4 linked regions of the Homo sapiens genome follow. The protein of the gene in region 2 purifies or fractionates together with the protein of the main gene of each other region. This does not show direct contact. Each region holds a gene or a part of one and is shown on either strand. Other genes may lie near its edges.

Evidence for each region. The genes of interacting proteins can lie anywhere in the genome.
Region 1: the proteins of PEF1 (region 2) and NUDCD3 purify together in Homo sapiens (affinity purification with mass spectrometry; 2 studies listed by BioGRID and IntAct, with this or other methods). This does not show direct contact.
Region 3: the proteins of PEF1 (region 2) and KLK5 purify together in Homo sapiens (co-immunoprecipitation; one large-scale study listed by IntAct). This does not show direct contact.
Region 4: the proteins of PEF1 (region 2) and KIAA0930 purify together in Homo sapiens (affinity purification with mass spectrometry; 3 studies listed by BioGRID and IntAct, with this or other methods). This does not show direct contact.

The regions. Positions count from the first base shown.
Region 1 is NC_000007.14:44,484,159-44,487,722, forward strand, and holds part of NUDCD3 (nudC domain-containing protein 3), read right to left. Parts: intron 1,127-3,564; coding exon 810-1,126; intron 1-809.
Region 2 is NC_000001.11:31,631,235-31,636,086, forward strand, and holds part of PEF1 (peflin), read right to left. Parts: intron 4,289-4,852; coding exon 3,988-4,288; intron 3,710-3,987; coding exon of another isoform or gene 3,612-3,709; exon of another isoform or gene 3,432-3,611; intron 3,259-3,431; exon of another isoform or gene 2,081-3,258; coding exon 1,925-2,080; exon of another isoform or gene 1,405-1,924; coding exon 1,261-1,404; coding exon of another isoform or gene 1,202-1,260; intron 1-1,201. UniProt on the Homo sapiens protein: Calcium-binding protein that acts as an adapter that bridges unrelated proteins or stabilizes weak protein-protein complexes in response to calcium.
Region 3 is NC_000019.10:50,946,539-50,950,102, forward strand, and holds part of KLK5 (kallikrein-5 preproprotein), read right to left. Parts: coding exon 3,317-3,564; intron 2,578-3,316; coding exon 2,321-2,577; intron 2,236-2,320; coding exon 2,102-2,235; intron 1-2,101. UniProt on the Homo sapiens protein: May be involved in desquamation.
Region 4 is NC_000022.11:45,206,395-45,209,958, forward strand, and holds part of KIAA0930 (uncharacterized protein KIAA0930), read right to left. Parts: intron 1-3,564.

The DNA.
Region 1 (3,564 bases), on a different chromosome or scaffold from region 2:
TTTCCAAAAAAACAAAGCAGGCCAGGAGGCTCGTGGCTGTCTTGCAGACACTACTACAACTCCCACACAAGAAGGGATCAGCTCCTCTCACTCAGACTGTAAGGAAGGACTGTATAACTAAGTTTAGAGCACCCACAAAACATAACTCCTAAAAAGTGAGTACAAGTACATAAAGCAAGAGGCTTGATTCAGGGAAACCTCATGTCATATTCAAGCTCTACTGCTCATTAGCTGCTTGACTATCGGCTCATTTAAAATTCACAACAGCTCTATGAGACAGGTACTATTATTATCACCTACATTTTATAGAGAAGAAAACTGAGACACAGAAAGGTTATACTGCTTGTTCAAGGTAATACATTCAGGAAGCGGCATAGCGAGGATGTGAATCCAGTCACCTAAAACAGACTGTCATTTCAGGTGTCCATTATACCTCAGGCATCATGAGCAAATCCTAGCAGTGCTCCTGCAGAGAGAAAAACACAAACAATCGAGCTGCTGAGGCTAAGCCTCTAAACACAGATAAAGTTAGGTCTTTGTGAGAGGAGTCAAGTGCTCTAATTTTGGCTCTGGATCTCAAATGGTTGTATGACTACTGACCTTACCAAATGAGGGAACTGACCTTAAGCCAACTGACCTCCCATCCTACATAACTGAAAGACTGTAATGCAGCAGTTTACAAACATGAAGAGCTAAATAAATACTGAGATCAAGAATTAATGTGTTACAAAGTAAGAATAAATTATGGAGAAACCCAAACACCAGATGTTACGCAAGAAAGAAGGAAGCTGCAAAGTAGAAATTCCCACCTGGGAAGAATTGGTGGTTCCCTAGGGACTTCAGCAGCACCAGCAACTGCTCCTGGAGCTTCTGCCTCCTGTGAACCATGGGCCATTTCCTTCACAGGGCCTGGAGGCTGCACTTTCTCTACTTCCTGATGCCCATCCAATTCTGTGGTGGAGTCAATCTCTATTTCCTGGACTGGAACTGGGACTGGCTCCTTCTCAGCTGCAGCAGCTGACACAGTCTTGGCCTCTTCCTCTTCCTTTCTTCTGATTTTCTCTTCAAGTTCCTGCCTTCTCTTCTCATCATCCTGACGGGCCATGTGGTCAAAGGTTTTGAATACCTAAAATCAAACACCAATCCAGCAATCAGTTCATCTGCCCAATACTGTACCACATATCTTGTAGAAATGTCGTAAAATCTGTGAAGGAGAGAACTAAAAGTCAGAAACTGACAAGTTTTCCCACTGGCAAAATGGAAATGCACTGCCACTTCACCAAAAGCTGACAGGTAAACAGTGTTTAACAGGAGGATTCCAAAATCAACAAAATCAGAAACTTATAAGCCAAGGCTAACAATATTTACATACCTAAAAGATGTACAGTTAGATGGTCTTTGTTGTCATTATTTTACAGACCCCAGTCTTGTTCACAATGCAAAGAATACACGGTCCTGGTACAACTGTGGGTTATAAAGGCACCAAAATTCAGACTCACAAATGAAACATGAAAATATGGCTGAACTTCAATTCCCAAAATGGAACCAGGTTTACAGGACTGCTGCTGTTTTTCACCACACTGCATGGACATTCAATTCAACAAACATCTACTATGCGCCTACAGTGTGCAAGAAACACGCACGCACAAAAAACATCAAAATGATTTCTGCTGCCTCCTAAGAACTCAAAATTCTGGTGTGTAAACAAGTTCTTAACATTTTCTGGGAAACAGTCACACCCATGAAGGTGCTGGGACCTCTCTACCAAAAAAGTACAGTCAAGACATACCCACACATGAAAACTCTGATACAAGAGGGGGCATGACAAGGCCCTCAATTCCCTGTCAGGGTATGGGTGGGAATGAGCATGTCTGGCGAAAGAAATCTAGGGAGACTTCTTGGAACAAGGAGGATCCCAGTTAGACCCTGAATGAGAGGCACATCTTCCACAGGGAACCACTGGAGGAAATGCCACAGCTCTAAGAATAGGCTTGTCAAGGAAGGGCAAAAGCTCTTGCAATAACTGGAGGAAGGAAAGGCTGAGACAGCAACCTGGGACATGGGTGGGAGTCAGATTCCAAAGGGCTAGAATGCGGACAGGTATTAAATAACAATGTTCTGTGCACTGCGCGGGCAGTCAAAAGGGTGCTAACAGACTAACTGTGTCAAATTATTTTACAAACATTCTCTCAAAACCCTCACAAAAATACTGTGAAGAAGACAGCATCAACATTTCAAAAATGAGAAAAAAATAAGGCTTGGAAAGGTTACGTAACTTGCCCCAGCTCCTGCTGGCAAAAGAAGTAAAAAACTACGCAGCACACACCAAACAGTGTGGGGAGATGATGATGTAGGCAGAGGGGAAAAAAAAAAATCAATAAAATCCTAAAAGGTTAAAAACTGGAAACAACACCAGAACCATTTTTACTTCTGCAGATAACCTGAAGCCCTGACTTCATTCTAACATTAGGGTCTCTACCGCTTTGAGTCCATGCTTTCAGAGTTGCTCATCCTGCTGATACTCCAGATCTTCATCTTAACTCCACAAAAGCAAAGCAACAAGATCTCTCTCTCCTAACACCTGAGACTTCGAACACAGAACCCCCAGACTTGATAGTCCTCACCATGCAGCTGCCTCTGCTCACTCAGTACATCCAGCCTTCTCTGACCTACCCATTCACACCACCAGGAAGTGCTACCACTGCCAACCTCCCAACTATCACATGTTCTCAGTACTCATTCTAGAGTCACAGAACATAGGGCTGGAAGAGAACTCTAATCTGTAACCTCCAATCAATCTTCTCAGCTGACAAGAGGTGAAGTGACTCTCCCAAGATTTCTCAACAATTTATGTAAGGAACAGGATGTAGCTAGCTTTCCTGATTCTAGTTTCAAGGACTTCTACAAAGGAGCACTTCTCAAAGTGGACTCCAAAAAAAACAGCATTATCGATTATAATGAATGGCTTGTCAGTCTAAACGATTTTTGTCTTAAAACATACTAATGTATTATAAAATGGAATGCAATTTTCACATACATCATTCCTGCTGAGGTTCTTCAAGCTGTGTATCCAGGCTATGCAAACTTTTAAAAGGAAACGTATGAGCTGCCTAACTCTACACCAACACTGTACTCCCCAAAATATTAAGGGAACGCTTTGAAGTTCCACAATGATGCAGCCCAGCACTCCCATCCAAATTCTTCTCTGCCTATATTCAGCAGAGACACCAAGCATCCCACATCTGGTGGGGGTGGAGAGGCAGACCCCAGGAAGGAGTCTTATGCCATCAAGTTAGGGACAGAAAAAAAAAAAAACCCTAAGAGGCAGATGAGTAGGAGTGGGGAGGTCAGGAGATCACCTACTACCACGAAGAAATAATGTTATGCTGGTACCAAGTCACTCAGTCTCATTCAGTGTTGTCCCACCCCACAATAAAACCCTTGTCAATACTGAAATCACCTTTACAAACCTCCTGTCAAATGAGCTTTTGTGGATAAAAGAACAGGTTCCAGCCAGGTGCAGTAGCTCATGTCTGTAATCCCAGCACTTTGGGAGGCTGAGGC
Region 2 (4,852 bases):
TGCTCTGGAGTCAGCCACTGGGCAAGTTGCTTAGCCTCACTATCCCTATCTTATCATCTCTAAAATGGGGATAATACTTAACTTGTAGGTTCTAGTAAGGATTAAAACGGGTGATCATGTAAAGCACTTAGCACAGTGACTGGCACAGAAAAAGCACTTGGTAAATGCTATTTTAATAAAGTCACTGTCACTCCAAGGTCTCTTGGAGCATCCTGTCTCTTCACTGGGATGCTTCCTTCCTTCCTCTGTTCAGAACTTACCAGGCCAGGCTAAAACCTCAGCTCTCCATTTGTTATGCGGGCCCTTGGGCAGGTTACCTACACTAAACCTCAGTTTTCTCACCGGTAAAAGGGAGATTATAAGGGATTCTTCATTGAAGGGTGTGGAATTATAAATAGTACCTAGCACATGGGAAGAATGAATTACATAAGCCTATTAAAAATAGCAAGCATTCAGTAAATACGTTTTGTTGTGGTTAATATCACCCTTACTAATATCCACGACAAAAGCTGGCAAGAGTAGGTGATTACTATAGGTCATCTCCCCTCCCTTTTACTGGGGGCAGATGTGGTGCACTCACTCCTGCCCACAGACCTCCTTAGTCTGAATGAAATCCACAGCCTGGGCAAAGGACTAGACTCTCTGGGGAGCCCTTTCTCCCTCCTGGGTGGCAAAGCTCCCTCTTGGGTCCTCCCCCAACCTCTTACTAACCTGCCTGAGCCCAAACTGTGGCCTTCTGCCTTACACAGTCAGTTTGGAACCAGACCTGGGGCTGTGGCCTCAGGTCATCTTCCCCAACTGCAACTTTTAGAGTGCTCAGGGTCCCAAAAGTTGGGAAAGAAACTGTCCACTAGCAGAGGTGGCAACAGACCCATCTTTCTGAGCCCTGTTCAGGGCTCTTTCCATTCTACATGCTAGAAACTGGAGAGAAAGGAGTCACCCAAGCCACACACACTGGTCTCATAGTCCTTAAGGTGCCAAGTTTCCATCCTTAAGGCTCCCTGTGGCTGGGGCCGTCTCACCCAGCACTCCAGGGTCCAGCCCTGATTCTGGACCCAGGTGTTTCCTTGCCCTGGCTCTTGGCTCAGTGCCCCAGCTGGGTCAAAGAAGGGGTGAGGGATGCAGGCCTGCACTGAGAACAGCATTTTGTAGTGCAGGTGGACATTCGGTAACAAGAGGAAACCCCTTTGTTGTATCTTAGGGTGTAAAGAGAAGAGTCTAGCTCTGTCCTGCCCATCGTGCCCCGGCCATGACCCGCACCTTGCTGCAGCTCTGTGTAGCTAATGGAGCCCGAGCGGTCCCGGTCATACTGCTGGAAGAGGTTCTTCCACTGCTGGATGAATTTCCACAGGGCTGAGAAGCCGTAGACATCGATGCGGCCTGACTTGGTCTTGTCAAACATGTCTGAAGGTGAGGAGGGAAAGGAGGGGAGGAAGGCTTCAAGACTGAAGGCCAAGGGTCCCCCTCAGGACCCATTGAGGCAGCCCTTCTCTCCAGGCTGGAGTAGGCGACTTCACAGAACCAAGCCCTGAGGCCCAGATGCCTGCACCTGAGACACCCACATCAAGCGTTGCACCGTCCTCCTACTCTGGACACCTTTAGCCCCACCCCATCCAGAACTGCATTTTCTCTGCAGGCTTGGCACCTGACCCCTCCCTGCTGTTTCCTACAGGGGAGGGAGTACCATTCTACAGAAGAGGAAACTAAGTTAACCTGTAACTAGGCAGGGTCTAGAACTTAAGAAAGATCTCAGGAAAAGAGCTCTCAGTCTAGGGGATCTCACCCTGAACCTAGCTTCCTCCCCACAGTCCTCCCTGGTCAATGAATTTCTCTTCAGAATGTCCACCCACCCACCTACCCACCTACTGTCCACTATCAGGTGGCTCTGCCCCAGCTCAGGCCCAAGGGCAAGGCGGAGACTCACTTATCATCATGAGGCAGGTCTCATCATTGAATGAAGACCAATTGCAGTTGACCAGGGCCTGCTTTAGCTCCTTCATGGAGATATAGCCACTGTGATCTGAGTCCACCGACTGGAACCAGGAGTAGGCCTCAGGATCCACATTGGGAGGGGCGCCACCTGGAGGAAGGGGTGTGAAGGCCATCAACAGAAATGCCAGGAAGGGCCAGCCTCAGTAACTTCCTGGCTACAGGTTTCTCCTACACACGAAGCTTCACAAATTCACCTTCCCTGTCTTCCATCAAGCTGACATTCTTACTCTGATGGAAGAGGACCTTCAGTGAAGATTCATGAGTATTTGCAGTTGATTTCTATTCCATGAGTCCTCTGGAGTTCTCGTATAGTGTTCCAGACACTACTCTTAATTGATTTTATGTTTTTAAGGAACGGGGACCTGTACCCCTGTAGCATTTCAAGAATTCTCTGGAAAAGGTAAACTGCGAGATGGGGGAATGGGTGGTAGATAAAAGTGTAGAAGTGGCCAGGCACAGTGGCTCACGACTGTAATCCCAGCACTTTGGGAAGCCGAGGCAGGCGGATCACCTGAGGTCGGGAGTTTGAGACCAGCTTGACCAACATGGAGAAACCCCGTCTCTACTAAAAATAGAAAATTAGCCGGGCATGGTGGCACATGCCTGTAATCCCAGCTACTGGGGAGGCTGAAGCAGGAGAATCGCTTGAACCCGGGAGGTGGAGGTTGTGGTGAGCCAAGATCACGCCATTGCACTCCAGCCTGGGCAACAAAAGCGAAACTCCATCTCAAAAAAAAAAAAACAAAAAAACCCAAAAAAAACAGTGTAGAAGCTGGTAAGTCTGTCTACCTTAGGACACTGAGTTAACTGGCCACAATCGGGGTCCCTTCACACAAAGACAGCCATGGGCAGTTGTGGAGGACAGAAACCACTGCCTAGTACCAAAGCCCAGTAAGGACAGAGGGAAAAAGGTATGCCTGACTTAGGGATTAGTCTGACTTCCTTGGAAAAATCCGGGCAGGTTCTAGCCATCTTCCTAAAACATCGGTGTCATAGGGGAGCAAGGGCCACAGCCCCAGGGCAGGAGAGATTCTGTGACATGTTTGAACTGTGTAGTTTGTATAGAAGGGCTCAGGCTTTGGAATCAAAGCAGACCTGGATTCAAACCCTGGATCTGATCCTTACTAGCTTGTGTGACTTTAGGCAAAATGTACAATTTTCTGAGTAATGATTTTCACATTTCTAAAATGAACCCATTTCCCCAGAATTGTTGTGATGATTAAATGAGATAACAGCAAAATAAAATCCTCAGCAAAGAGCCTGGAATGTGTGTCTTCTGAGATATTTTCACAGAGAAACGGATATTTAAACTGAGTTTCTCCCCATGGTAGGCTACATTATCGTCTCCTGGCTAATAATCTCTAGCCAGGAGACACAGTCTGCACACCCACAGACATTGTACTAATATGGTACAATGGTTTAAAAGGCCAGTTCAATAATCTATTATTAGATTACTTGCTAATCTCCCCTTCCCTATAAGAGCATTGTACATCCTCTCCCACTGCCTGGTGGCTTGCAGAGGGGCATCCTTTCCCATCCTACTGATGTCAGTCTTGATCAGGGGGTGCTCTGGCCAAAAGAATGCAAGTGGGCAAGACATACAGTACTTCAGAGAAGCTTTAAGAGGCATTGTGCATTCTTGCTAGCTCTCCTGCTCCTTCTCTCTGCCACAAAGATAACATATCCCAAACAGGAGCTGCTCCTTCAGCATGTATCCCTGAATGAAAAAGACACAGGGAACAGAAACTCAACAGCCAGCTAACAGCTGCTGACATGTAAGCAAAAGAAAGTAAGCATGAGCAAGCAATACAAATAAATGCTTGCAACAAAACTAGCTGACAAACTTATCATTTTGAGGATACACACTGAAGCTGGAAGCAAGATGCTAAGGTGCCAGAGACCAGGCTGCCTGCACACCCACAGGAAGGACAAAGGCTGGCCATGGATAACTCAGAACCACGTCAGAGGTACCCGGAGTCCAAGATTACTACTTACCCTGTCCATAAAGCCCAGGCTGCTGGGCACCGTAGGAACTTGGAGGTGGCTGACCATAGGGGCCCCCGGGAGCTGCACCGCCATATGGTCCTCCTGGAGTTCCAGAGGGGAACATCCCAGGATTGGGGTGTCCATAGGGCCCTCCACCAGCTGGTGGTCCATAAGGCCCTCCAGGGGCAGGACCCCCATAACCACCACCAGGGGGTAGCCCACTACCATACTGCCCTCCACTATTGGGGGGTCCAGGGTAGTAGCTACCCGGAGGGGCTCCTGGTGCTTGTCCTGCAGCTCCTGGGCAGCCCTGCAGGAAGAGCAAGATATCAGTCAGAATGATGAGGCCAGAAACTAGGCAGAGTATGGCACTTTACAACCATAAAGCACTTCCACCACCATCCTTTCAACTGATCCTATAGGTAGGGTTGGAATTATGATCTCACTGCTCAGATGGGCAAACTGAGGCTTCCAGAGGAGCAACGAGTTACCCAAAGTCACCCCGCCAATGACCTGCAGAGTCAGGGTTGAAATCCTCCTTTCCTAACTCTCCTTTCCTGCACATCAAGGGGCTCCACAAGGGCTAGGATCCTGTCTGGTTTGTCACTTTATCCCCAGCTCCCAGTGTAGAATGGATACTTGGTAAATATTTCCTGTATGAATGAATAGGCAAATGAATCAAACAGAATTCCAAATGCCCATCCTGTGGTACTCCCATCTCTATCTGCAGAACTCATGGGGCAAACGCAGTCTCTAACACACACCCCTGACCCTCATCAGTCACAAATGACATAGCTATAGCATGGATTCATCCACAGCATGTCTTCCTTACCCTGATGTAAAAACATTTCCCTATCCTCACTCACAACTCTGT
Region 3 (3,564 bases), on a different chromosome or scaffold from region 2:
AATGAGATGTGATTTCTTTTCTTTTCTTTTTTTTTTTTTGAGACGGAGTCTCACTGTGTTGCCCAGGCTGGAGTGCAGTGGTGCAACCTCGGCTCACTGCAAGTTCCGCCTCCCGGGTTCAGGCCATTCTCCTGCCTCAGCCTCCCGAGTAGCTGGGACTACAGGCGCCTGCCACCACGCCCGGCTAATTTTTTGTGTTTTTAGTAGAGACAGGGTTTCACCGTGTCAGCCAGGATGGTCTCCATCTCCTGACCTAGTGATCCACCCGCCTCGGCCTCCCAAAGTGTTGGGATTACAGGTGTGAGCCACCACGCCCGGCCGAGATGTGCTTTCTTCTGTTAAAAGTTTTCCCCCTCGCAACCCACCCCCCCACACCCAGGGCACAGAGAAGAAATGGGGAGAGCTGGGGAGGTGTTGCATTTGTCAGGTTTGTACAATTTGGGGGGAGCTTTTCATAGCCATGGGACTGGAGTACTCCTGAATCCCCAGCTTCCTAACTACTGTTGAAACACACACCCTGCTAATGAGAGCTTGTTAACTTACGTCCTTCTAGATCCCTTGGGAGCCTGAATACAGAGAAGGGTGCTGGTTGATGTAACAGTTTGATTTTAAATTCTGTCTTCCTCAACAGATACAGCTTCCATTAGAACATAGGGAAGCTCTGTGTTGGTGACCAAGAAATACTTGCAGAGCATTCGCCCCTGCCTACACCTCCAGCGTCACTTTCTACTGTTGCCCCCACTTTTGTTCTCCAGTTGCATTGGTTTCCTCTTCTTCTTTGAATCAGCCAAATTCCTTACTGCCTCAGGGCCTTTGCACGTGCCTTTTCTTTCCCCTTAAACTTCACGAGTTTAGCTTCTTTGTGTCATCCATTCTCTGCTCAAATGCCACCTCTCCAAGGAGGCTCCCCTGACCACCTTTTTGAATATTGGCCCTTATTGTTTACTATCCTAAAACCATGTTTTATTTTGGGGTTAACCTTTACCACTCTCTGAAATTGCCCTATTTATGCAGATTCTTGACCACAGAGTTTTTTATTTTTTAACTTTGTTCCTCCAGCCCTTCCAGCAGCTTTGCAATTAATCCCCTGTATTAAATATTCTCTTGTAAAAATACCTACCAGATTTCTCTTTTCCTTCCTCAAGATATTTTACCAGCACTTGCTAGAAAACTGTCATATTACAGATTTTGTTGAAACAAGACACTTAACTACCACACGCCTGAAAACTGCCAAAACTGACATCTGTAACACGGAGTGCCCCTATTAGATATGGTATCTTTATGCAGTGCACAACCTGCCCAACCATACAAAACAGCCCTGATCTTTCCCTCTAGATCCGTGCCATCCAATACAGTAACTGCTAGCCACATGTGGCTACTGAGCACCTGAAATGTAGCTAGTCCAAATTGAGATGTGCTGTCAGCATAACATATATACTCACTTTCAAAGACTTAATATGAAAACAAGAAAAGAATGTAAAGTATCTCATTCATAATTGTTTTATATTAATTACACTTTGAAATGATTGTATTTGGGATACATTGGGTTATTAAAGTTAACTTCACCTGTTTCTTTTTTACTTGTTTTTTTTTTTCTTTTTGAGACAAAAGTGTCACTCTGTCTCCCAGGTTGGAGTGAGTGGCACGATCTCAGCTCACTGCAACCTCCACCTCCTGGGTTTAAGTGATTCTTGTGTCTCGGCCTCCTGAGCAGCTGAGATTACAGGCGCCCGCCACCATGCCAGGCTAATTTTTGTATTTTTTTTTAGAGACAGAGTTTCGCCATGTTGGCCAGGCTAGTCTCAAACTCCTGACCAAAGGTGATCTGCCTGCCTCAGCCTCCCAAAGTGCTGGGATTACAGGTGTGAGCCACTGCGCCCAGCCTTTTTTACCTGTTTTAATGTGGCTACTAAAAAACTGGAAATGACATAAGCAGCTCAGCATTATTTCTACTAAACACCACTACTCTAGGGTATGAGCTCTGTGAGAACAGGGGTCCTGACTGTCTTGGCAATTGCTGGATTCTCAGAATTTGGCAACGCTCCATGTTACCGAGTTGGCACTCAGTGTGTATCTGCTGAATAAAGAGAGGTGTCCTCACCTGGCAGGAGTCTCTACCTGCTTTGTCACCGGCGCAGAACATGGTGTCATCTATCTGTCTCGGGTAAGCATCCTCGCACCTTTTCTGACTTAGCACGCTGATATTCAAGCACTGGAGGACCTTAGGGAAGTGCACTGTCAAACAGGAACACAATGAGAAGTGGAGAAAGATGGAAGGCGGCAGAGATGGGTCGGTATCAAGAAGAACCTGGACACTCACCTTGGGGGCTCTTGGTTGTCCCCCAGCCAGACACCAAGCACTTTGTCCCAGCAGAGGGACAATGAGAGGAGACGTTGATGGGTCTGACATCTTTAGTGGGACGAATTCTTCTGTTCAGTTTGATGAGCATGAGGTCGTTAGAGTGGCCAGGGTGGGAGTAGCCAGGGTGGGGGATGGATTTGACCCCCTGGAACATCTGCTGCCCAGATTCATAAACTGGTGACAGGGAGTAGTGGCCGAGACGGACTCTGAAAACTCTGAGGAAGATGGGGCAGGTCACCACCAACCCTGATCTCTATCTCCACGTCCAACGCCAATCCCAACCCCACACCCAGCCCCAGCCCCACCCCCATCCCCACCCCCGGTCCCCAAACCATCCTCAACTCCCTCTTGGTCTCCAATCCCATGCCTGTCCCCATCCCAGTCACAATTCCAAACCCATCCCATTCCCAACCCTAATTCTTTCCCTACCCAGAAGCCATCACCATATGCATTCTCAAGCCCAAATCCAACCATCTCCAACCCCACCCAAAACTCCAATCCCCATCCTTCATTCTATATCTGCTCCCAATCTCAACCCTATCTCCATGCTATCTTCATTTCCACCCCAGCCCGATTTTCACCCACCCCCAATTCTAAAGCCAATCCCAATTCCACCTCCATCCCAAACCATTCAACAAATATATGCTCCTAACCCCAAATCCAACCCATCCTTGGCTCCTTCCCATTCCCTACCACAACACTCTCCCCTCTCCAACCTCATCCTCCCACCTTGCTCCCCCGCAAAACTCCATCCTTAGTCCTATCCCCAACTCGACCTCCTCCTGCTCCCACATCCCCAACCCATCCCCACCAACCCTCACCTTCCATGACACCCCCAACCCCACTTCCCCGTCCCCACCAGCCCTCACCTCCATGACACCCCCACCCCCACTTCCCCACCCCCACCCCCACTTCCCCGTCCCCACCAACCCTCCTCTTGGAACTCCCACTCACTTCTTCCTGCAGTGGGCGGCCGTGAGCAGCCACTGTGGATGCACCAACACCGCCCCGCAGTAGAGCTGGTTGGGCCTTAGCAACAGCGCGGCCTGCCACGGCTGGGTGTGCATATCGCAGTCGGATCCATTGATGATGCGGCTGCTGCTGTCATCCGACCGGGCGTCTTCCCCGGCCCCAGCTCCCAGGTCCTGGTTGCTCCCAGAGGGCACGGTGTTAGAGGGGTGGTCACAGGAAACATCATTGTT
Region 4 (3,564 bases), on a different chromosome or scaffold from region 2:
TCAGTTTCTTCATCTGTACAATGGACTAAGGGCATCTTCCCCTCAAAGTTGTCATAATGATTTAAAGAGCTCATATTTGCTAAGTGGCATCAATGATAATAGTGACACCTACTGAGCTCTTAGTGGACGGCGGGGTCTGGGCTACACATTTTACAAATTATTAATCCTTTTAAAGCAACCCTGCAATGCAGGTATCATTAGCCCCATGTTAACAGATCAGAGTCAAATTTACTGAAGATCAATAATAAATACATATCAGAGAGAAACCAAAGCATGTCTACACCTCTCCTGGGAGACTGGCTTCCAATTTTTTTTTTTTTTTGAGACAGAATCTCACTCCATCCGTCACCCAGGCTACAGTGCAACACATCTTGGCTCACTGCAGTCTCCGCCTCCTGGATTCTAATGATTCTCCTGCCTCAGCCTCCTGAGTAGCTGGGATTACAGGCACGTGCCACCACACCTGTCTACTTTTTGTATTTTTGGTAGAGACAGGATTTCACCATGTTGGCCAGGCTGGTCTCGAACTCCTGACCTCAGGTGATCTGCCCACCTCGGCCTCCTAAAGTGCTGGGATTACAAGCATGGGCCACCGTGCCCGGCCTCAATTTATTTCTTATTTATTGTTTTGAGACGGAGTCTCGCTCTGTCACCCGGGCTGGAGTACAGTGGCACAATCTTGGCTCACTGCAACCTCTACCTCCTGGGTTCATGTGATTCTCCTGCCCCAGCCTCCCAAGTAGCTGGGATTACAGGTGTCTGCCACCACACCTGGCTAATTTTTTTCTGTATTTTTAATAGAGAGGGGGTTTCACCATGTTGGCCAGGCTGATCTCGAACTCCTGACCTCAAGTGATCTACCCACCTCGGCCTCCCAAAGTGCAGGGATTACAGGCATGAGCCACTGCACCCGGCCTCAATTTATTTCTTATTTTTTTATTTTTTTGAGATGAAGTCTTGCTTTGTCACCCGGGCTGGAGTACAGTGGCACAATCTTGGCTCACTGCAACCTCTACCTCCTGGGTTCACGTGATTCTCCTGCCCCAGCCTCCCAAGTACCTGGGATTATAGGCGTCTGCCACCACACGTAATTTTTTTTTTTTTTTTTTAATAGAGACGGGGTTTCACCATGTTGGCCAAGCTGATCTCAAACTCCTGACCTCAAGTGATCTACCCACCTCGGCCTCCCAAAGTGCAGGGATTACAGGCGTGAGCCACCGCGCCCAGCCTGGCTTTCAATTTTGAAGCAGCTGTGCTGACTGGGGGCCTCTGGTCCCGGTCCTGGGTGCTCTCACTGACTCGGGCTCCGAGGGGCTGGGCACTGCTGGGCCCTCTTGCAGGTGCACAGGCCTGCACCCCCCAAAGGCAGAGCTGGGATCTATGGAAAGAGGTGCAAGAGGCCAACCTTGCCTAGGAGCGAGAAACAGACGTCCCCGGGTCGGGGGGCCCCACTTCCACCGCCTGTATGGTTCTGCAGTCACCCCGAGCCCCTGAGCTGAGAGTCCTGGGGTTCACAAGACTCTGCTGTTCCTCCTGGTCTCGCTTCATTGACCTGTTCATTTGCTTTTGCTCAGCAAAGCGCTGTGGACTCAGTGAATGAAAGGCTCGGGGGCACGATCACACGGCTGTTCGGGGCAGCACCACAGCACAGGCAGGCGAAAGAGCAGGTTCCCCATCAGAAAGGTGTCCGTGTGCGCACCAAAGCCAGGCCCAAGAGGACACTGGGAGCTGCCCGGTACCCACTGACAGGAGGGTGGCCAGGCCGCCATGGTACACTCTGCAGGCATTACACAGCAGTGAGACCAGATTACAACCACCTGTGTCAACAGGCATGACTCACAAACATGACATGCGGAGAAAGAAGCCTGAAACAACATATACTGCCCGATTCCAATGTATGAGCTGTGAGAACAGGCAGAACCACCGACTCCACACACATGAGCTGTGAGAACAGGCAGAACCACCGACTCCACATGCACGAGCTGTAAGAACAGGTAGAACCCGCCAACTCCACACACACGAGCTGTGAGAACAGGCAGAACCCAACTCCACACGCAGGAGCTGTGAGAACAGGCAGAACCACCGACTCCACACGCACGAGCTGTAAGAACAGGCAGAACCCACCGACTCCACATGCAGGAGCTGTGAGAACAGGCAGAACCCGCCCGGGAAGTTTGAGGAGACAGAGCAGCAGCTGCCCAGGGGGAGGTTGAGCCCTGGGGTGGGGTGAAGGGGCCTCGGTGTTCTCATCACACTCTGTATCTGGGGGCTGGTGAAACCAGGTGTTCAGTCTAAGAAGAATCAAACTGTGTACACGTCTGTGTTTTTCTGTATAGACGTTATATTGAAAACAATCTACTAAAAAGGAAAAAGTGAGACTGGGGACAGGGCTTCGCCGCTGGCAAACTGTGTGACCCCAGGAAGCTTCCTCCCCGTCTCTGAGCTTTGGTTTTCTGAGTGGGTGTGAAGGTGATCGGCACCTTAGGATCCTGAGGTGTCACGTGACCGTGAGACACAGGGCTCCGGCCACCAGCGCAGAGCCAGCAGCACACAGAGCCAGGTCCCCCTCCTGCCAAAGGCACACAATGGGCTGCCCAGGAACACAGAGCGTTTTGTCCAGGGCTGGAGGAAACAGAGGGCAGGGAATCCAGGACATCCCTCCCTGGGAAAGGCTGGACTGGGGATGTCCCTTGGGCCCTGGAGCACTCGGGGTTCCTGGCATCCTGTCCCCCTGACACTGCAGCTCCTGCCCATCCACGCTCCCCTGCTAGGTGCAGGAGGCCCGGCTGGTTGCTATGGCAACCGGGTACCAGCGGGATGGGCATGGGGAGGGGGCGGGAAGTAGCCAGGCTCCCGCAGAGGACTTGCAGTGCGCAGGCGACTCCGCGGGTCCCCCACCTCCACCGAGCGCTCAGGGCTTTTGCCAGGGGGGGTCTCCCCGTCTCCCCATCAGCGCCTCCAGCCTGCCCCCTGCAGGCCACCCTCAGCACTGCAGCCCGACAAGCTGGGAAAAATGCCAAGTTGGGGCAGCCCCAGGACCCACCCACCAGGCCCCGCAATCTCCATCGGCCTAGTCTGGCAGGTCCCATGTGGCACTCGTCACACACCCTCCCACTCTGCACTCACTGGTCCCTCCACGGGGCGTGTCCTCAGCCCACTGCTGCCCGCTCTCTCTGTCCTACAACCCGCCCGCCAGATGTCACCTTCTGCACTCCCCCCACCACCGCCGCCCTGCTCCTCTTCCCACCATCACAGCACTGATGGCTCCATAGCACTGGCCATACCGTCTGTCTATCCAAACAGACTGAGGCCAGATATGAGTCATTTCTGTGCTCCCAGCACTGAGTGTGGGGGGGCATCTGCACATGGCTCACAGTGGGTGTTCAATAGAACATTCTAGCATGTAAACAGCTGGACTGCCACCTGCTCCCGTGGGACTCAGGCTTCCCTCACTGACCTCGACACCCCCAAATTTTCAGCAGATCCTGGATGTGACCCCATCCCCTCTGCTCCAAATTCCTCAGGCCTAGATCCAGGGCTGCGCTTTCTCAGTGGAGGGCTCTC